Linked DNA regions of Homo sapiens: regions 2 and 3 are each reported to be linked to region 1. The links are microRNA targets in miRTarBase. Many come from high-throughput screens and were not tested one by one. Region 1 holds a microRNA gene; each other region holds the end of a gene's coding sequence.

Evidence for each region. Region 1 holds the annotated microRNA hsa-miR-7844-5p (AAAACUAGGACUGUGUGGUGUA, at 3,628-3,649, shown strand). A microRNA usually pairs through its seed, bases 2 to 8, with sites in the 3' UTR of a target mRNA and lowers its output. Matches are read on the target gene's strand: a 7mer-m8 pairs with bases 2 to 8, a 7mer-A1 pairs with bases 2 to 7 and ends in A, and an 8mer does both.
Region 2: miRTarBase lists ZNF543 as a target of hsa-miR-7844-5p. Seed matches in the 3' UTR shown: 7mer-A1 at 6,150-6,156.
Region 3: miRTarBase lists MED14 as a target of hsa-miR-7844-5p. Seed matches in the 3' UTR shown: 7mer-A1 at 5,269-5,275 and 7mer-m8 at 4,729-4,735.

Annotation. Positions count from the first base shown.
Region 1 is chr12:94,567,787-94,574,954 of GRCh38, reverse strand. It overlaps MIR7844 (microRNA 7844), which reads left to right and starts at 3,603; the gene lies at 3,603-3,724. It overlaps TMCC3 (transmembrane and coiled-coil domain family 3), which reads left to right. Exons shown (of 4, transcript NM_020698.4): 4 at 3,218-7,168. The coding sequence ends at 3,520.
Region 2 is chr19:57,328,442-57,335,639 of GRCh38, reverse strand. ZNF543 (zinc finger protein 543) reads right to left here. Exons shown (of 4, transcript NM_213598.4): 4 at 4,870-7,198. The coding sequence ends at 6,375. Among named protein-coding and RNA genes, the nearest start is that of ZNF543, 12 kb to the right of the region's middle.
Region 3 is chrX:40,645,645-40,652,811 of GRCh38, forward strand. It overlaps MED14 (mediator complex subunit 14), which reads right to left. Exons shown (of 31, transcript NM_004229.4): 31 at 2,661-6,235. The coding sequence ends at 6,162. CXorf38 (chromosome X open reading frame 38) reads right to left here and starts at 1,917. Exons shown (of 7, transcript NM_144970.3): 1 at 1,661-1,917; 2 at 1,363-1,497. The coding sequence starts at 1,876. RefSeq lists an enhancer at 1,098-1,297 and silencers at 1,548-1,697, 1,818-2,117, 1,953-2,133.

The DNA of each region.
Region 1 (7,168 bases):
TAATTTTCTTGGATTTTTCTTTTGGTTAAAAAAAATTGACAGCAGTTGTAAGACAATTCTAAGATCGGTCTATTTGTACACGTAATTCATTTTATAATCAAAGATTCATGGATTTTCCTAAAAGGTTGGTCTTTTGTCTTGTTCCATCACCTTTTCTGTGTTATGCCTAAAATAGAGGAAACCTTGGACCCAAGTAGTTGAAAAGAACACATGATTTCTAGTACATGCCTGTTATTGCTGAAAGCCAGCACTTTCTAGAATGTAAGATCTGAAGAAGTTTTATCCTTTTCGTTGGTAGCCTAGTATAATAGAAGTTACTATAGTAACAGAGAACCTGTTCTTTGGCCCATAGAGTTATTCAGCAGAAGAAAAGCAAATCAATCTTGGAGCCATTATTCTTGTTTAAAACCTGAAAAGGTGACTATATTTTAATTGAGCAAACACAGATGGGCAAATGAGTTAGAACAGAGAGGGGCACATTGTACTACCTCTAGTTAGATCCTTTTCACCCAGCAGGCCTGAAGGTTTCTCTCTCAAGCCTCACATTCTGTTTTTTTTTTTTGTTTTTTGAGACCGTCTTACTGTGTTGCCTGGGCTGGAGTGTAGTGGCGTGATCTCGGCTCACTGCAACCTCCGCCTCCTGGGTTCAAGTGATTCTCCTGCCTCAACCTCCTGAGTAGCTGGTATTACAGGTGCATGCCACCATGCCCAGCTAATTTTTGTATTTTTTTTTTAGTAAAGAGGGGGTTTCACCATATTGGCCAGGCTGGTCTTGAACTCCTGATCTCAAGTGATCCACCCGCCTCGGCCTCCCAGAATGCTGGGATTACAGGCATGCGCCACTGTACCCATCAAGCCTCACATTCTCTTACTGGCACCTAGCTGTCTCTTTCATATTCAGCCAGTGTGTGGCACGTGCTGCATGCCTGGCGCTGGCTCTGTGCTGGAGAGGACAGCAAATGCAAGATGGGCTAGTTCCTGTCCTCAGGCAGCGTATGTCTTGTGGTTGGGGAGGAGAGCTGAAGGGAGACTTGATCTCATCTCATGGATCAGGAAAGGCTTCCCCAGGGATGTGGCAATCAAGGCGAGACCTAAAAAATGAGTGGGAGATCCACGGGTGAAGAAGGGATGGAGTGGGGGAGGCACATGTCTCAGGCAGAGTGTACTGAATATGCAGAAGCCCTGAGGTGAGTCTGTGCTCCTTTTCAGAACTTAGAATAAAGCTGTGTGTGGTGGCTCGCACTTGTAATTCCAGTCATTCAGGAGGAATGGAGGCAGGAGACCAGAGGTTGAGGTTGAAGTGAGCTCTGACTGTGCCATTGCACCCTAGCCTGGGCAACAGAGTGAGACCCTGTCTCTTAAAAGAAAAAAAGAACTTAGAAAAGGCCAGAGTACTGTGACAGGGCAAGCGGCTGGCATGAAGTCATTAAGTGAGGGAGGAGAGGGAGCTGAACCTGGCCTTGCAAGGCCTCAGAAGGCCATATTAAAGATTGTAAAGGTTTTATGAAAAGGAGTGATACCAAATATGCATCCTTAAAAGACCGCTTGGGTGGCTGTGTGGAAAATGGATTCGTAAGGGTGGGGAACAAAAGAGTGTATAGGGAAATTCGTGTAAGGTTATTGCAGGCAGGAGATCCCGGTGACTTAGATTGGGGTGCTGACCGGGTGGAGAGAGAACCGGACCAATTGAGCTAGAAACTGGATGTTGCCTCCGTGGCTGGGCGACGGGTTGGATGAGAAGGGTATCAGGGTATGCCCGTTAGGCTTCTGGTATGAGGAACTGGGTGGATCATGGTGCTGTACTCTGAGAAGAAGGACACTGGAAGGGAAGAGGGTTGACTGCAGGTGTTGGGTAGCTGCAATACATGAAGCCACATTTGTACGTGTTGCATTTGAGGTGCTTTCAGGAAGCTCTGATGGAGATGTCAAAGAGGCATGGAGATCTGTGAGTCAATCTCAGAAGAAGAACTGGCCTAGAGATACACTTGTAGCCATCTGTGTCTTAGTAATTGAAGACTTGGCATGGACGAGATCCAGGGAGATAGCCTCGGATGGTGTCCTGAGTAACACCGCGTTCAGAGAGCAGGTGAAAGCACAGTTGCCCCACAGTCAGCCCCAGTCCCTTCCCCTCCCTTCTCTCGCCTTCCTCCGCCAATCTCTAACTGATGGACAAAAATCTTTGAGCGGTGGAAATAAGGACTGACCATTGGAGATCCCACACACTCCTTGGCTGAAAGGTGGAGTAGTCACAAAGTGGAACCTCCCTCCTTCTCTGCTTTGTCCCTGATGGCACCAACAGGCACCAATATTTTATATCACTTTATTTCAAAAATAGGTAAAGTCAGGCTGGGCATGGTGGCTCACGCCTGTAATTCCACCACTGTGGGAGGCCATGGCAGGCAGATCACTTGAGGTCAGGAGTTTGAGACCAGCCTGGCCAACATGGTAAAACCCTGTCTCTACTAAAAATACAAAAATTAGCCAAGCGTGGTGGCGTGCACCTGTAATCCCAGCTACTCAGGAGGCTGAGGCAGGAGAATTGCTTAAACCCAGAAGGCAGAGGTTGCAGTGAGCCGAGATCACGCCACTGCACTCCAGCCTGGGTGACAGAGTGAAACTCTGTCTCAAAAAAAAAAAAAAAAAAAAAAGATGAAGTCGGCTGGGCATGGTGGCTCACACCTATAATCCCAGCATTCTGGGAGGCCGAGGTGGGCCGATCACGAGGTCAGGAGATCGAGACCTTCCTTGCCAATATGGCGAAACCCCATCTCTACTAAAAATACAAAAATTAGCCAGACATGGTGGTGCGCACCTGTAGTCCCAGCTACTTGGGGGGCTGAGGCAGGAGAGTTGCTTGAACCCAGGAGGCGGAGGTTGCAGTGAGCTGAGATCGCACCACTGCACTCCAGCCTGGCGACAGAGCAAGACTACATCTCAAAAAAAACAGGTAAAGTCAAAAAACTTAGCCATACTTCCTCATTTATGGTATTTTGTGGTTGTATCCACATGCTCTTCTACTCGTGAACAACAGGAGAAAATGAGCCTGGGATTCTTGTTCCACATCTTTGTCTATCACCATCATCATCGGTTTGGGGATTTGCAGCCGCCTGGGCATTGGGCTTTCTGAGCTGGGGCTTTTGTGTACAGCTGAGCGAGCACTCACGTGTTGCTCACCATCCCAACACCGTTTGACCCTTGCTCTCCCTCTTGCTCACAGGAAGCCTTGGAATCCTGCCAGACTCGCATTTCTAAGCTGGAGCTCCACCAGCAAGAGCAGCAAGCTCTGCAGACAGACACCGTGAATGCTAAAGTTCTCCTGGGGAGGTGCATCAACGTGATCCTGGCCTTCATGACTGTCATCTTAGTGTGTGTGTCCACCATCGCGAAGTTCGTCTCACCCATGATGAAGAGTCGCTGCCACATTCTTGGCACCTTCTTTGCCGTGACTCTTCTTGCTATATTTTGTAAAAACTGGGACCATATCCTGTGTGCCATAGAAAGGATGATAATACCAAGATGAAGCCACTGGTTCCTGCCTTCAAGTTCTTTCAAGTTTTTATTTTAAAGAAAACTCTGTGCATACTACCAAATTTTACAGTGAATGATTGTGCGGACTCGTGTGTAAGAAAAACTAGGACTGTGTGGTGTAAATAACTACAATTCTCTTAACTCCGTAGCAGTTGCCAACTCAGTCCTTGTACTTCGTTAACACGAATCTGTTTCAGAGCTCTCCTACCTTGCTCACTGCCTTAATCAGACCGATTTCCTGCCCACCTGACCAGCCCAGCGTGGTAAACCTCTGTATATTGAGACCTTGGCATAATTGGTGATCCTGAAGAAAGAGGTCTCTCTCCTAAGTCTCTGTCAGAATTGAGCTTCACAATTGCTAATGGTTGTTTTCTGTGAGTCCTATAAAAAGCAAGGATATGCATGATTCAGGGAATGAAGAATCACAGGCTTGGGCAGTGTTAAACACTGTGGCCTATGGTCCCCGTGTGATCCACCCTGCTTCTCTCCAGGGGACCATAGGTCCCGTCATGTACTCAGTGTCCACAGCAGTCAGTCGTGTATGACCCTGTAACGTGGAAATCTTATCACACACCTGTTATCCAACAAGTCTACCTGAGGGGTTTTGTTACACTTTAAATGGGAAGGCATAGGGATTTATGAATGGGGCTTTCACCTTCTCATACCCAGGCAACCAACACCTGATTTTGTCTCAACTGGCTAGCAAATGCCCAGCCTTCAGAGTGTGCAGGAATGTTTTCAAATCCCTCATCAGACTGTGACTTTAACATTAATTTGGAATCCTGTGAGCACTACTCTGAAGGTTTGTGTTTTGGCAAATCTTTTTTCTTTTTTGAGACAGGGCTCTGCTAAATATTGCTCAGGCTGGTTGCAAACTCCTTGCTTCAAGGGATCCTCCCACCTCAGCCTCCCAAGCAGCCGGGACTGCAGGCACAAGCCACCATGCCTGGCTGTTTTTTGGCAAATCTTGATTGTGATAAGCCCCCCTGGAGGATATGATTCACTTTATGTGATTCATCTTATTCACAGGTCTGTGAGGGACTGCAAAGCTTACTCAGGAAATGAAAACAAATGATGGTCATGTTGCAGTTTTTTCCTTGAAGGACAACCGAACCATAGCCTCTAAAGTTCAAGTGCACTGAGGTGTCGGAACGCTGAAAGCATGAGGAAACGAGGACGTAGGGTGTGACTGAATGGTGGCTAGATTAGTGGGAGCAGTTCACCTGGATGAAGATTGAGAGCATCGTCTTTGAGAAGTGAAAGACTAGCAAGAATAAAATAAATTAAGTCCAGTGTTTGAGCCAAGGTTGCCACCTGTCTCTTAACATCTCACTGAACATAAGTCCTGAGGTATTAGGACGACCATACTGCCTCTGAGCTGAAAACATTCAAAAGTTCACATCCCTGTTTGGGGGATACCATTCACCGCCTTCAGCCCAGATGATACTTTCCTTTAAATCTGTGTCTCTGTGTGTATAACAAAGAGGAAGATGGAAACAATGTTCATGGAAACTGCTGTTGAGCCCCTTGTCCCACCACTCCCGCCATCTGCTGCAGGCAGGAAGGCATGTGAGTGTACGTTTTCTTCCAGGAGACATCAGGTCCCCCTGGATTCAAATTAAGTGCAATATTTTGCAAACAGCTCTTCTTAGGGAAATCTCCTGAAGGAAAAAAATGTGACAGAATGTTCCATAGTCTGAGAGAATGGAATCGTTGAGCATTTAGTACAAGTCCAGTGTGTGTGAGCGGGACTTAGGCAGCTCAAGCTTGCTTTTTTTTTTAAGCGTACAATTGAGTGGTTTTAGTAAATTCACAAACTTGTTCAACCATCACCACTATCTAATTCCAGACTCACGCTTTTTTAAACAATAAATGTCATTTCATGAAATCTTTGGTGATAAAGTATTTTGGATTCAGAGAAGAGCTCCCTTACCAGTCCCACCCTGATCTCATGGCTGTCTCTCCTTTCATTGTCAGACTCCCCCTGGTCTACCGCGTTGATGTGTATACACTGATCTTTCAAGTCTGGGAGACAGATAAGGAGGCCAGGTGCAAGGCAGGGAGGCAGAGAGAATGTTGTGCTTCCTTTAGCTTTTGTATTTCGATGGCCAGCATTACCCTTTACCTGTGGGCATCAGACTCAGCGTGGGCTGAGTGCTGAGTGTAACTTACACTCCTAAATCAAGCTGGGGCCTGGGTGGGCCCCTCTTGGTATCTGTGAATCTTTCCAAGCACCACTTCGGACACACCAGGGATTGAGTGCTGCTGTTAGTTTAGAGAAGGAGAGATGTCTAACCCTTGAGGTGAAGGGCTCTGGGAGGGTCCAAGAAGACGTAGGCTTCATTTTCACACCAGCCCACACCATTCCAGTGCTCAGCCTAGCAAATGTGCTTTAATGCACACTTCTCAGACCTGTGATCCGTGTATCTTCTCCCCAGTGACAGAAGTAGAGAAGAGAATGGAAAGCAGCACACTCCGTCCCCTCTAGTCTGGAGCTGTTAACAGAATCTGCTAGAAACTAGCTTTATTCTAACATACCGTAGGATCTAAATCCTCCTACCTGGATCATGAATTCCTTTGAAATAATTCATATTTTCATTGACTCTCACTAAATGTCAAATAACCTTGTTTTCACTTGGATAGGCTCAACCTACCTGGCATATTTATTTTGCAGTCTTGTTGAAAGTTCATGAAACTTTGTACTTTTTAATAAGATGATACACTCGAAGGAAACTTTTAATCTCTGCAGTTTATTCTCTCTTAAGGAATAAACACTCCCACTGTTTGTTCTCTTCAATGTGTAAGGAGATTAAATGACATTTTAGAAATATTACAATTAAAAATAGTGATGTAGCTGTAACATATGCTGGAATTGGATATTTAATTTATGTTTGTGTCAACTATAATCCTTTCCCCACCCCTTTCATTTATGGTAAACATCTTGGGCAAACCCAAAGATGGAAAGTGCTTGTTGGGTGGGTAAGCACCACCTGGTCTCTCAGCAAACACTCCTGAGTGGTTGAAGATGCTGGACATTGGATTCTAGCACTGGGTTTATCTGGTGACATAGTCTCCTGTGGGTCTTGAGTTGGTTATTTCAAGCTCAAACTCTGAATATGATTAAACCAGAACACCCCACCCCCAACTGCCAAAAAAAAAAAAAAAAAATGGAAATCCATAATGAAACAGCAAAAAAGTACTCCGTTGCTGGGTTTGGACAATGAACATGGGATTAGTCCCAAGTTTGTAGCTTGGAACGGTAGCATTTTTGCCTGCGTGATCCTTGTCAGCTATTCACAGAAGGAAATCTTCCGAAACTCCGTCTTTCATTTCAGCCGGTGAGGCTGTTATCCTTCTCTGTCAATTAGCATTCATGTGGTTTTCGCTCTTTCCAGCTCTGTCACTCTTGTTTTCATTTAAATATTGCCCCACTCTGTGTTTATTGCCTTGCCATTTCTCTAGCATATCAGGTTTAATTATGGGCTCAGTAATAATGAGGAACTAGCTTCCCTCAGGCAACTAATTACTTTTGTCTTTTTTGGTCGGATTGTACCAAATTATTTTGCATTGAATGGGAATGTTTTTGCAGTGAATCCAGATATAGTTGTATTGGTTTGGAAAAACATTTAAATATATTTAT
Region 2 (7,198 bases), not on the chromosome of region 1:
CAGAGTCTTGCCCTGCCGCCAGGCTGGAGTGCAGTGGTGCGATCTCAGCTCACTGCACCCTCCGCCTCCCGAGTTCAAGCGATTCTTCTGCCTCAGCCTTCCGAGTACCTGGGATTACAGGAGCCCGCCACCACGCCAGCTAATTTTTGTATTTTTAGTAGAGATGGGGTTTCACCATGTTGGCCAGGATGGTCTCCATCTCTTGACCTCATGATCTGCCCGCCTCAGCCTCCCAAAGTGCTGGGGTTACAGGCGTGAGCCACCGTGCTCGGCCAAAAGAGCACACTTCTAAATAACCCATGTGTCACAGATAATTTCTTAAATGGAATCGAGAAATAGTTAAGCTGAATGAAAATATAATTACAATATAGGAAAATGTAAGATGGAGCTCAAACAGTGCTGAGTTTAGCTTATAAAACTAAATGCTTATGTTAGAATAAAGTCTCTAATGATAATCTAAGCTCCCACCTCAAGAATCTACAAACAGCAATATACAACCAAAACAAGTAGAAAAAGAAAATAATAATGATCAGAATAGAAATCAAAGTCAGAACACATAGAAAATCAATGACACAGAAAGCTGGTTCTTTGAAATAGTCAATAAAATTTATAAACATCTAAGAAGATTAACAAAGATAAAGAAGACACACATAACCACTATTAGGAATAAAACAAAGGATACAACTATAGAACCTTCTGTCATGAAGGGAATAATAAGGGAATACTTCAAATAAATAACTCCACAAATTTAAGTTACAAAACTTAGATGAAATGGAACAATTCCTCAAAAATAATAATCTATCAAAACCCACCCAATATGAAATAGTTTGAGTACCTATTAAGTTGAATGACTACGTAATTCAAACCTTCCACAAGAGAAACCTCCAGACTTAAATGGTTTCACCAAAAAATTCTACCGAATACTTAAAGAAACAACACCAATTCTACAAAATGTCATGCAAATAAAAAGGGGGTGGCACTGGAGGAAAAATTCCCAGTTGATTTTGGGAGGCCAGTATTAGTCAAACACCAAAATCAGATAAAGTGAAAACAAACAAATAAAACTACTGACCAACATTGCTCATTGTAGTGGTCCCCAACTCCCCTTTCTGTGTCCTGGCCTAGAAGTGCAAGGTGCCTTGACAGCTCTGTGACCCTGGACCAAGTGCATGTCTTCCCCTGCAGGCTTAAACGTAAGCTAGGGATTGGAATGCCCAGGCACTGACAGTTACATTGTTGCCCGAAACACTGAGAGATCAAACATGTTGCTAAACATGTAGAAACTGGCCCTGGATCTGAGCCAAATTCCTTAAGCCCTCATATACTCTCCATAACCCAAACTTCTCATTGCAGACGTACACAAGTAGAGCTTTTTTTTTTGTTTGCTGTCCAACACAAGGACACACTGCAGCCCCCACAACCCTGTATGAAAGTTCCTCCGAACAATGATTTGAACTGATTACCCTGGTGTTTTATGCTCCTTTCTTTGGAATCCCAACAGGTCCTATCTCAGGACTTTTTGAAACAGTCCCTTCTGGGAACCCCTCTGCCACTTTTGATGAAATTCCAGCCACATATTTGGCCAGATGGAATACTCATGATTTCAGATACAAAATTTCTCAATAAAATACTAGCAAATGGAATGTTGTAATTAAAAGAAATCATATTCCAATTAGCCAGGCATGGTGGCACATGACAGTAGTCCAAGCTATTCGGGAGGCTGAAGCAGAAGAATCGCTTGAACCTGGGAAGTGGAGGTTGCAGTGAGCCGAGATCGTGCCACTGTACTCCAGCCTGGGTGACAGAGACTTCGTCTCAAAAAAAAAAAAAAAATCATATTCCATGACCTGGTGGGGTTTATCCCAGGAGTGCAAGGCTGGCCTACATTCAAAAAGCGGCCAGGCATGGTAGCTCATGCCTGTAATTCCAGTACTTTGGGAGGCCGAGGTGGGCGGATCCCTTGAGGTTGGGAGTTCGAGACTAGCCTGGCCAACATGGTGAAACCCCATCTCTACTAAAAATACAAAAATTAGCTGGGCATGGTGGTGCACGCCTGTAGTCCCAGCTACTTGGGAGGCTGAGGCAAGAGAATTGCTTGAACCTGGGAGGCGGAGGTTGCAGTGAGCTGAGATTGCTCCACTGCTGCACTCCAGCCTTGGCGAAAGAGTGAGACTTGGTCTCAAAAAAACAACAAAACATTCTAAAATCAGTTAAAGCCATCCATCATAACAGGCTAAAGAAGAAAAATTACATGATCATATCAATTGAAGGGGGAAAAGCATTTGGCAAATTACATGCCCATTCACAATAAAAGCCCTCAGCAACTCAGAAGGGAAACTTTCTAAAGAACATGTACATAAAAGTCTACAGGTATTATATTTAACGATCTACACTGAATGCTTTCTCCCAAACATCAAGAAAAAGGCAAGTATGTCCTCTTTCACCATTTCTATTCAACATCACACTGGAAGTTCTAGCTAGTGCAATAAACACAAGAAAAGGAAATAAAAGTAATATAGATTGGGTAGGTGAAATAAGATGTTTGGGCCAGGAGCAGTGGCTCATGCCTATAATTCCAGCACTTTGGGAGGCTGAGGCAGGAGGCTCACTTGAGCTCAGGAGTTTGAGACCCGTCTGGCAACATGGTGAAACCTCATCTCTACAAAATACACAAATATTAGCTGGGCATAGTGGAGTGTGCTAGTAATCCCAGCTACTCGAGAGGCTGAGGGTAAAAATTCCTTGAACCCGAGAGGCAGAGGTTGCAGTGAGCCAAGATCGCACCACTGTACTCCAGCTTAGGTGACAGAACAAGAGTGTCAAAAAAAAAAAAAAAAAGTAGAAGTAAGATGTTTGATGTTTGCTAATAACATTAATATTTATGAAGAAAATCCTAAGAAAGCTATTAAAAAATGTTGCTGGAACTACTGACTTCAGCAAAGTCACAGAATACATATAAAAATTCTAATTTATATATTTCTCTATAATTGCAAGTATCAAGTGCAAACTGAAATTTAAAACTCAATACAACATATAATGGCCCTCTAAGAAACTGTCTAGATTTTTAAAATATGTCCATAATCTATAAGCTGAAAATTACAAAACCCTTATGAAATAAATCAACGAGGACCTCAATAAACAGAGGGACGTACCATATTCATGAACTGCAAGACTCAACAAGATGTCAATTCCCACCAAAACGATCTTTAGATTTAAGGCAATTTATATCAAAATCCCAGCAACATATTTCATAGAGACAAACATGCAATAAAATGTATATACAAAGCCAAAGGAAACAATTGATATGAAAGCCAAATCAATTTTTATTTTTTATTTATTTTTTGAGACAGGGTCTCACTCTGTCACCCAGGCTGGAGTGTAGTGGCACCATCTCAGCTCACTGCAACTTCCACCTCCCGGGTTCAAACAATTCTTCTGCCTCAGCCTCCCGAGTAGCTGGGACTACAGGCGCCTGCAACCTTGCCTGGCTAGGTTTTGTATTTTTTAAATAGAGACGAGTTTTCATCATATTGGCCAGGCAGGTCTTGAACTCCTGACCTCATGTAATCTGCCCACCTTGGCCTCCGAAAGTGTTGGGATTACAGGCGTGAGCCACCATGCCTGGCCCCAAATCAATTTTTAAAAAGAATAAAGAGTGAGGAATAAGTTTACCCTATTTTAAAATTTAGTAGATAGCAATAGTAATCAAAATAGAGTGGTATTGGCATAGGTTTAGGCTCGAAGACCAATGGAATAACATAGAGAACCAAGAAATAGACCAACATGAATATACTTAAATAATTTTTTGCTAAGGTGTAAAAGCAATTCAATAGAGGCAGAATAGTCTTTTCAAGAAATGGAGCTTAAAAAAATTCATGGGCAACAACAAAAGAAACTAAAGTTCATACTGTAATACAAAAATTAACTTAACATGAATCAGATCCAATGTAGAAGATAAAATTTGTAGGAGGAAATACGATAGAAAACCTGGTGAGGAGTTCTTAGACATGACATAAAAAGGACAAGGAGGGCCAGGCGTAGTGGCCACGCCTGTAATCCCAACACTTTGGAAGGTTGAGCCAGGCAGATCACAAGGTTAAGAGATGAAGACCATCCTGGCCAACATGGTGAAACCCCATCTCTACTAAAAATACAAAAATTAGCTGGGTGTGGTGGCACAAACCTGTAGTCCCAGCTACTTGGGAGGCTGAGGCAGGAAAATCACTTGAACCCGGAAGGTGGAGGCGGCTGCAGTGAGCCGAGATCTCACCACTGCACTCCAGCCTGGGCAACAGAGCGAGACTCCATCTCAATTAAAAAAAAAAAAGGACCAAGAGATGTCTTCAAAATAATGACATGAATTAATGCAGTACAAAATGGCTTTGCCTACAATAGAAAACTATACAAGTGTTCACTAAAAGGCTGTGAGCGCTGGGCGCAGTGGCTCACACCTGTAATCCCAGCACTTTGGGAGGCCGAGGCAGGTGGATCACCTGTCAGGAGTTCGAGATCAGCCTGACCAACATGCAGAAACCCCATCTCTATTAAAAATACAAAATTAGCTGGGCGTGGTGGCGCATGCCTGTAATCCCAGCTACTTGGGAGGCTGAAGAAGAATCGCTTGAACTCGGGAGGCAGAGGTTGCAGTGAGCCAAGACTGTGCCACTGAACTCCAGCCTGAGCAACAAGAGCAAAACTCTGTCTCCAAAAAAAAAAAAAAAAAAAAGGCTCTGAGGAGGGAAGTCCCACTTGGACACCCCTCTCTTCTCAGAAGAGAGCTAGTCTCTTTTCTCTTTCTTTTGCCTATTAAACCTCTGCTCCTAAACCAAGTAAGTAAATAAGTAAATAAATAAAAAAGGCTTTGAGGAGTTCAAAGTGAATACATGATTATTTTTACTTCTGTACAATATATTTAATATGAGGTAAAACTATCACATGGCTCAAAATCTAGTCTTAAAAATATAAAAAAGGAATTACAAAACGCTCTAAATGTGTAGCATTTTAATCAAGCCTAAGTCCATGGTGACAACTGTGAAAGTCACACATCCCTACATATATGCATGCCGGCTTGCCTGTTAAAATTCCAGTTAAAGTGAATTTTCACACACTCTTTAAAAAGATTAAAAATGACATTCCTTCTATGTTTGTTCTTCTGAGTTTATCATGATCTTTCAAAGGAATTCAGCTACATACTGTATTTTTGGGGGGGCCTTAATTTGACCTTTAGAAAACTGAGGTGGACCTAACTCAAAGGAGAGGTAAAGAAGCTGAGAAACCACAATCATAGGAAAAAACTAAGATTCCCAGGATTACTGTGGGCATGAACAATTACACTATCATCCCTATCCCAGGAAAACTTAAAAAAAAAAAAAAAAAGTAAATCCACATCAAGAAAAAGTATGTGTATTGGGTAAAGACACATGGTGAAACATTTTTTTAAACAAGCATCTGAAGTGGACAATGTGTCCAAACATATGTACATCCTTATCTCCTTATAAAAGTGTTTCATAACTCAAGCCTCCATATTTTTTATAAAGATGTATGCTTCTGCACCTCGAGAGTGGAGAACGTTGCAGGACTAAGCAAGTTTTCACAAAATGTTTTCAAGCCCTCGTTTGTATAACTGTTCTGACACTGGGCAGCAGTGAATGCATACACAGAAAAATAAAGGGGATGAGATCTTTCGTTTCTGAAACATTTCCCTCTCCCACATAAAATAACAAAGGGACGACAAAATTGCCATAGGCTTGTCAGACAAGTCTAAAAGAAGCTGTGGTTTCTTTCTCTTCCCTATATTTCCTCTTCCTTTGTTTAAATATCCCTGAGATGGCCGGGCGCGGTGGCTCACGCCTGTAATCCCAGCACTTTGGGAGGCTGAGGCGGGCGGATCACGAGGTCAGGAGATCGAGACCATCCCGGCTAAAACGGTGAAACCCCGTCTCTACTAAAAATACAAAAAATTAGCCAGGCGTAGTGGCGGGTGCCTGTAGTCCCAGCTACTTGGGAGGCTGAGGCAGGAGAATGGCGTGAACCCGGGAGGCGGAGCTTGCAGTGAGCCGAGATCCCGCCACTGCACTCCAGCCTGGGCGACAGAGCGAGACTCCGTCTCAAAAAAAAAAAAAAAATATCCCTGAGATAATATTTCACTGTAAACTAAGAAGAAAGATGTGGCTGAAAGTTTTCCTAAGTGCATAGCAACCACTGGGTCTCTCTCATGGGTGAATTCTCAGGTGGAGAATAAGACTCCAGGCTGGTTCAATTTCTAACTTGATTGTTTAGACGACAAATGATCATCTATTACACGTTTTCTCAAAGAGAGGATGCTTATGAAGTTTCTCTTCAGTGTGAATGGCCAGATGGTAAGATGTTCCCTTTCACCACAGATTTTCTTCAGTGGTGATATTCAAAAACTCTTTCCCTAATAAAAGTTCCTGGATGTTGACTGAAGTCTGTGCAGTCATAAAAGGTCTTCCCACATCTGTTACAATGGTAGGGTTTCTCCCAGTATGAATCCTTTGATGATGTGTGAGGGATGAGCCGCGATTAAAAGCCTTTCCACACTCACTGCATTCATACGGCTTCTCTCCAGTGTGAATGATGGAGTGTCGAATAAGGTTTGCGCTCCGGCAAAAGGCTTTCCCACACTGGATGCATTCATAGGGTTTCTCTCCAGTGTGAATCTGTTGGTGCCTCGTGAGGTGTGAGCTGCGGTTGAAGGCCTTTCCACACTCCACGCACTCATAGGGTTTCTCTCCAGTGTGGATGCTGAAGTGGCGAATGAGGTCTGCCCTATCACTAAAGGCTTTTCCACATTCTTTGCATTCATAGGGTTTTTCTCCTGTGTGGGTCCTTTTATGCAAGACAAAAGTGGAGCAGTGGGTGAAGGCCTTTCCACATTCACTGCATTCATAAGGCTTCTCCCCAGTGTGAATCCGTTGATGCTGCTTGAGGTGTGACCTACGGTTGAACGCCTTCCCACACTCCATGCACTTATAGGGCTTCTCCCCAGTGTGGATAATGTAGTGTTGAATGAGGTCTGCACTCTCGCAAAAAGCTTTTCCACACTCGTTGCATTCAAAGGGTTTCACTCCAGTGTGAATCTGTTGGTGCCACGTGAGGTATGACCGGCGGTTGAAGGCCTTCCCACACTCAATGCACTCATAGGGCTTCTCTCCCGTGTGGATGATGTAGTGTCGAA
Region 3 (7,167 bases), not on the chromosome of region 1:
CTTGCTCTGTCACCCAGGCTGGAATGCAGTGGTGTGATCACGGCTCACTGCAGCCTCGACTTCCCAGGCTCCAGTGATCCTCTCACCTCAGCCTCCTGAGTAGCTGGGACTACAGGCATGCACCACCACACCCAGCTAATTTTTGTATTTTTTTGTAGAGACGGGGTTTTGCCATGTTATCCAGGGTGGTCTTGAACTCCTGAGCTCAAGCCATCCTCCCACCTTGGCCTCCCAAAGTGCTGGGATTACAGGCATGAGCCACCGCGCCCGGCCCCAATTCCTTTCATTTTTTTTTTTTTTTTTTTTTTTTTTTTTTTTTTTTTTTTTTTTTGAGACGGAGTCTCGTTCTGTCGCCCAGGCGGGAGTGCAGTGGCGCGATCTCCGCTCACTGCAAGCTCCGCCTCCCGGGTTCACGCCATTCTCCTGCCTCAGCCTCCCGAGTAGCTGGGACTACAGGCGCCCGCCACTGCGCCCGGCTAATTTTTTTGTATTTTTAGTAGAGACGGGGTTTCACCGTGGTCTCGATCTCCTGACCTCATGATCCGCCCGCCTCGGCCTCCCAAAGTGCTGGGATTACAGGCGTGAGCCACTGCGCCCGGCCGTCCTTTCATTTTTGAGATTGGGGAGCACAAGCTGGCCCAGTGTCACACCACGGCAGCTGATCCAGGACTCAGATCATCTGCTTCCCAGGCACTGCTCCTTTCCAGTGCCCACCCTGTGCCTGCTGATAACTACTGGCATGTAGACTGACTGCTAAAGTCAATTTGTGTTAGGAAGCCACTTCTGGCTGTCCCTCTCCGTCCCTTACTGGGCAAAAAAATTTCCTACTCGATCTACTTAGTAAGTGACATTGCCAAGATCTGAAGACAGATCCGGCTGCCTACCCCATTCCCAGCTACCCAAAGTGCCTTTAACTGGGCACTTAAGGTGCTATTTTAGCCCTAACTTCCCTTGGCTTACTCTGTCATCCTTACGGCATCCTATAGCCAAAAAAGAGCTGATGAGCTGTTCAGCGAGCCTTACCCTCAAACAGGCCACACAAGAGTCTCCCTCCCTCCCTGCCTGTGCTCATGATGCTCGCTCTGCATCTTGCCCCAGTATCTCTTGTAGAACTCTTTCCTGTAACTTTCCAAGCAGGGGTAACAAACTCAAATGCCCTCAGGAAGCAGACGGGTAGAAGAAAGCTTCTACTTCACTAAGCTGGGTTGGGTCCCGCATACCACCCCTGAACCGCCTAGACCCTTGATCAATCTCTCTCTCTGCATCTGTTTATGAGGCCCCGGCGACCACAAGACCAGATAGCCACCCCGAGTGCTGGGTGACCCGCCGCTTCCTCCTTCCGTCCCCGCCTCAGGCGCTTACCTTGGCCACCTCCCAGGCGTCCACGGGCCAGCGGCCCGGCCGGCAGTTTCCCCAGTGCACATCTCCATTTCTGTTGACATGATGTCTCAAAATCTCCCTTTTCCATTCAGCGCACACCTGACACTGAGGCTGAAACTACAGGGGGCGGCGGTGAGGAGGGGCCCAGGAGGGAGGGACGTCGCGGTGGGCCCCGCATCGCGGAGGGAACAGGACACTTGCGCTCTGGGTCTGGGACAGGAACGGGGATGAGGAGGGGTGGGGTGGGGGCGGTGGTCAAGGCCCCGAGCCAGGTGCTCACCTGGCGGGCGCGAGGGCTGCACCGTGAGCCGCCGCGGCAGACGGCGCGGGGCCCCAGGCCGGGGGCTGCGGCGAGTAGGCCGCGGTGGAAGGAGAGCACCTCGCGGCCGACGAAACCCTGCAGGCAGCTGCGCAGCAGTAACAGGCAGTGGCCCGCCTTCACCCAGTTCTTGTACTCGGCGCAGTTGAGGCGCGCCGCTAGCTCCGACAGCACCATGTCTCCCACTTGGAACCAGGAGGTTGCGGGGCGTGGCGGACGGCAGTGCGCAGGCGCGGAGCCTGGGAAGTACCCGAGGCAGCGGCGCCTGCGCCGGCGGCAGCGACGCCTGCGCCTGCGCGGCGCGGTGCCACCGATCCCGGGGCGGGGCATCTTGACTTCCGGGGCACGTCGGCTCCACCCCACTTGGGTGACGTCTGACGTCTGACGTCTAACAACTTTGGTGCTTGGGGAAGCAGTTAACTATTTGAAACCCTTAGGCCCTCTTCGTCCCCCAAACAGAGACCCTGTCAGCATCCGATTCGACTCCCTCTCCTAATGTAGGGCACTTCTGTTTTAACTTTTTTTTATTGTCCAGATGTACAAGGTGCTCAGGGCACATTGCTTGAATCGTGTATGTTCTTTGCATTATACAATTCTAGAGTTACTGGTTCCTAAGCCCACAGACCAGCTGTAGCAAATTGAGGTATTAGTGAAACGTGACCGCTGGCTGCCTGCGGTGTGCCAAGCTAACCCAAAACTCAAAATCCCCCGCCACTGGACCACCCAGAAGGGGGCGTTTGCCTGTTTAGGGCAACACATCACTTGGATTCTAGAAGGCTGCACACCTGAGCCAGATAAGGGCATCCTGAAGCACCTAGCAAAGGTTAGACGATAATTATCTAGTATTCTTGATTATATGATAATTAGTGCTCCTTGCACATGGAAGTCTGATTTAAGTTCCAAAGAAGTGCCACAAAGGTCAGAAGGCACTGGGATTGTCAACTCCAAGTGACAAGTCAGGTCAGTTTTAGTTGTTTTTAATGAGCTTTCTGAGCTTGGAAAACATGTCAAAATTGTGTGTAGTTAAAAGCCTCTGAGGAAAGAGTCTAAACATTAAACCTTCCCGACTGTGGTTCACAGCAAAAATGTCCAGTGTTTAGGAGCACTAGCTCAGACTCAAACTGCCCCTTCTTAGCAGTTTGATCTTAAGCAACCTTAATTTGATCTCAGGCAAATTACATTTCTCTGGGCCTCCATTTACTCATTTTTAAGAAGAGGATATCAATAACCTACCACATTGGGTTGTTGTGAGGATTAAATACACATTGAAATATTAAGAAAATGCCTAGCACACAGTAAGCTCTCAGTAAATACTTGCTATTATTTTATATTGACCTAAATATGCCCTTTCATCAATCAGTTATATTCTTGGGCAAGGTATTTTAACAAATCACTGGCCACTTGGAAGTGGAGGCAACTTGCAGAAAATTGTGAGCATACCATGGAGTTCCTGGAGTTGTGCAGCACAGTGCTGGCTGGCCTCTGCTAACTTTGTCTTAATAACCTCAATGCTAAATCCATCCTAAGTAAATTTAAATCACATCCTTAGACACACTGTCCATTCTCAAACCGAATGAAAAAAAAATTCCACAAGAAACAATGAAATACACATTAACATTTTCCCTCTATGTCCCTTGAATGTAAGTTCTCTTAAAATTTTCTGTATACTGATTTTATATCAAGAACACTTGGATGATAAATAAACATTAAGGTAAAATGTAATAGGCACTTCTTTTGGGGGGAAAAACTATGAAAGGAACAACTTTTTATATTGAAATTGCATCAGAATCCAGGGTAGCAAAGTTATAACTTCTTGAAGTTATCAAATTAACCACAGTCCAAAGAATGGCTGTTAGTATCCTTTGGCTGAACAGATTACTGTGTTAATTAGAACACAGTTATTAGTGGTTCTTAAATTCAAAGTCATATAAATTTTAGTTTATGCTTGCACTTAACTCACTCAGTTAATTTTCAAACATAAGGTTCGACTCCTGTTATTAGCGACTTGACACGTTCTGCTGAAGCTCTCACTTTTCTTCTAATTCTGAAAGTACTTTTATACATTCTGAAATGGCATTTCAGCAGATGGAAAAATGAAGGTGGCAAATCAGGACCAATTTCTTATTTCAAGGTTAAATTAATACTAAACCAGACTATTAATGAAAACATCTTCATCAAAATTAACTAGAGAGTTGGTAGTTCTCTGAAACTTTGTATAAATTTTATTTATTACTGTAAATACTAAAATCACATTGAAAACACCTTAAAGTTAAGTCCCAACCCGATTATTAGAGAAAATCACTTGGGCATCCAGTCCCCTTGATCGAACCTGGGTAACAAAAGAGGCAAAAGACATGATTTGTGATGAAACTTACTATTCAAATGCTAAATGTTTTCAAGCTTTAATAAGGTATATATCAATTCCAAGTACCAAGCATAATATAAAAATTCAAATTCATGGGTTTACTCTTAATAAGCATCAAAAGCAAATTTTGCGCACTGAATCCTATCTTACTCTTGATTGGCACAATGCATTCAGAGATGAGTTATAATTAGGAAAAAAGAGTGTCCACTGAATGCATCATGTGTAAAAATGCAATTAACATTTCAAAACCACATTAAAAGGGAAAATACCTAAAAAGTTAACTCTTAATAAAATTATTTGAAACAATATTATCCTGCAGATAAAAATACATTTCTTGTATATACATGTAGATTTCTACATGAAAGAAAAGATTCAGCTCCAAATAGAAAAGGGCTGACCCTTGATAAAGACATCTTAGATTGCCAAACTGATGTGATTACCACTGTAAGAACTAAAAACAGAAGGATAAAAAGATTAAGTTAAAGGAAGGATAAAAGTTTAGTCAACTGCTCCTGAACAGTGGCAGAGTTGGGTGAGAAGTGGGAGATGAAGGCAGAAATAAGACAAAGAAGAAAGGCAAAGAAGGCTTCAACTCTGATTGAAAATGAGTGGAGAATCAAACAAAGTTGAGAACAGATATGATATAGGTACAGTGAGATACTTGAAACTAGAATTTGATAGTTGATAGTTATAGAAGCTCAATTAAATCATCTTGAAGTGGAATTAGACAAAGCATCTACATTTTAATGGAGAACCAGTATTACAGTGACCAGGTAACTCGGCATGGTATTATCACTTAAAAATTTTTCCTAAATACCATGAAGTCGGTAGAAGACCTTTGCATCAGACCATGTTCTTTGAAGCTTAAAAAAGTCCCTGACTGACTAGGAAAGACAGCACAGTGCTCCAAAAAGAAACCCTGCAGAGATGTATTAATACCAAAAACTCCATTTGACCCTGGACAGGCCCAGGATTCGGGATTCTTCACAATGAGGGGAATGGACCAGGTTTCTTCCAAGCAAAACATTCTATCGTTTTGTTGACAATGAATTAAATTGAAATTGTTTAGAACAATCCCAATTTTGGTGGGGAAGGAAAGGAGGATAAGTTAAGCAAGATAAAGAAAGCTCACAGAAACTTCATGCAGAGGTACAGCATTAAAGTTCTTTGTTTCCTAATTAATGTTGTATGCAGAAGTATTCTGTAAACTAAATTTTCCTGACAGAAAAGTTCCCACATCCTCAACAGATGAGAATGATTGCATTATTTGGGATCCTTGATCAATACGAACCACATACTGTCCCTTCTCAAAGACTAAGTTCCTTATTTTTCACCCAAATCCTATATATTGAAAGACAACCAAGGTGCTAAATGTTAACCACTAGTCAAGTTAGGAATGTCTGAAGAAAATATATTAACCTTGACATAAAGAAGATGTTTTTGGTCAAATTTCAGACATGTATTATTATAAATTAATAACTGGCTCCATCCACCAGGTTAAAGATGAAGGGAGGGCCTAAGATGTCTCTAGAGTTTATATACACACAAGTGAGTGTCACTGTTTTGTTTTGTTTTTGACCTAGTTTTATTAAATATTGCTTCCTTGGGGTGTGTTTATAACAACTCCCAGAACATTTCATGTAAGGATTCAAAGCGGTCATATTAAAATACAGCTTCAATATAAAGTTTATCACAGTTTTACAGTATTCAAAAATGACAGACCTGCCTTAAAAAACAAAACAAAAACCAAAAAAGGACTATTACACCCAAAACATAAGAAAACAATTAAATAAACAAGTTTGGCATTTTCATAACTTTATAGTATAAAACAGAATATTAAATTTATTACTGGCAAACGGACACTGATTTATTTCCTTTGAAATGTGTCCCATTTAAACACACTATACAAGTTCATTATACAAAAGATGGATGATCATTTTGATGAAAGAAGTGCACCCTGAAAATTTTTGCCAGTTTAGAATATTTAGCTCTTAAAGTTTAAAAAAAAAGTCCTTTTCCTTTTTTAAACTGAAGGCTGAATTCAGATTTTTTTTGTTGTCTCATCTGTCAGCCTTCCTGGTTTAAAAACAATAGTGTCTATGGACGCCCACCAGGGGGCAGTGTAAGATTAGCCATTAAATCACGAACAGCTGCAAATATTGTGCATTCACCTGCAACAGAGAAAAATGGTCATTAGCTATTCACAACACAGGAAAGATGTTAACACACCGGTAAGGGAAGGGGTAATTAAATCTAAAATTAGTGAGAACTTTAAAGATCAAAATAAAAGACAATTTTAACTGCCCAGATTATTGGGGATTAAGCTGTGGTGTTAAGTATCAGATTATATTTGGTTTGGATTTTTTTTCTCAGGAGGAAACTTCAAGCAAGTCCCAGTTAGGTTTGTATTTAGGAAGATATGTCTAGAGTTTCTGTTTAGAAACACTGTAGCATTAGATAAGCCTTTGAAGTTGGGCTTTAAGGCTACTGAGTGCTTATAAGGGCATTTTGGATATCATAAAAACATCTAGTTTATATTTATGCATTAGTTACAACTTTGGTGGTATCTTTCAAACGTTGCATTAAAGGCCAGATAAAAATGTTTAGGACAGCGCTGTCCAATAGAACTTTTTGTGATGATGGAAATGTTGTATAAGTGTGCCATGGCTATTAAGCACTTGTAATATAGCTAGTGTGACTGAGGAACTGAATTTAAAGTTTTATTTAATTTTCATTAACTTAAATTTAAATAGCCACATGCTGGCTAGTGGCAGTTATACTGGACAGTGCATGTCTCTGACATCTATTGGAGTTTTCTCCCAAAATTCAAGGAAATGGTCAACTTCCAGAGTTCAACATTAAAATCAATTAAATACAAAAATGATTTTCTTAAAAGCACTTCATCAGAAGAGAAGTGATGGGTGTGGGAGGTGGGGTGGGAGACTGAAGTATGGTACACCAACAATCCAAAAACAGGATTTGTGGGTGGGGAGGGTGCTGGCGATTCATCCTGTCAACTTCTCCTTTGCTCAAAGAAACCAAATACTCTGCTTCTTGTAATTATTACAAGTATTTAAATATTATAAACCAAAAGCTGGATCCC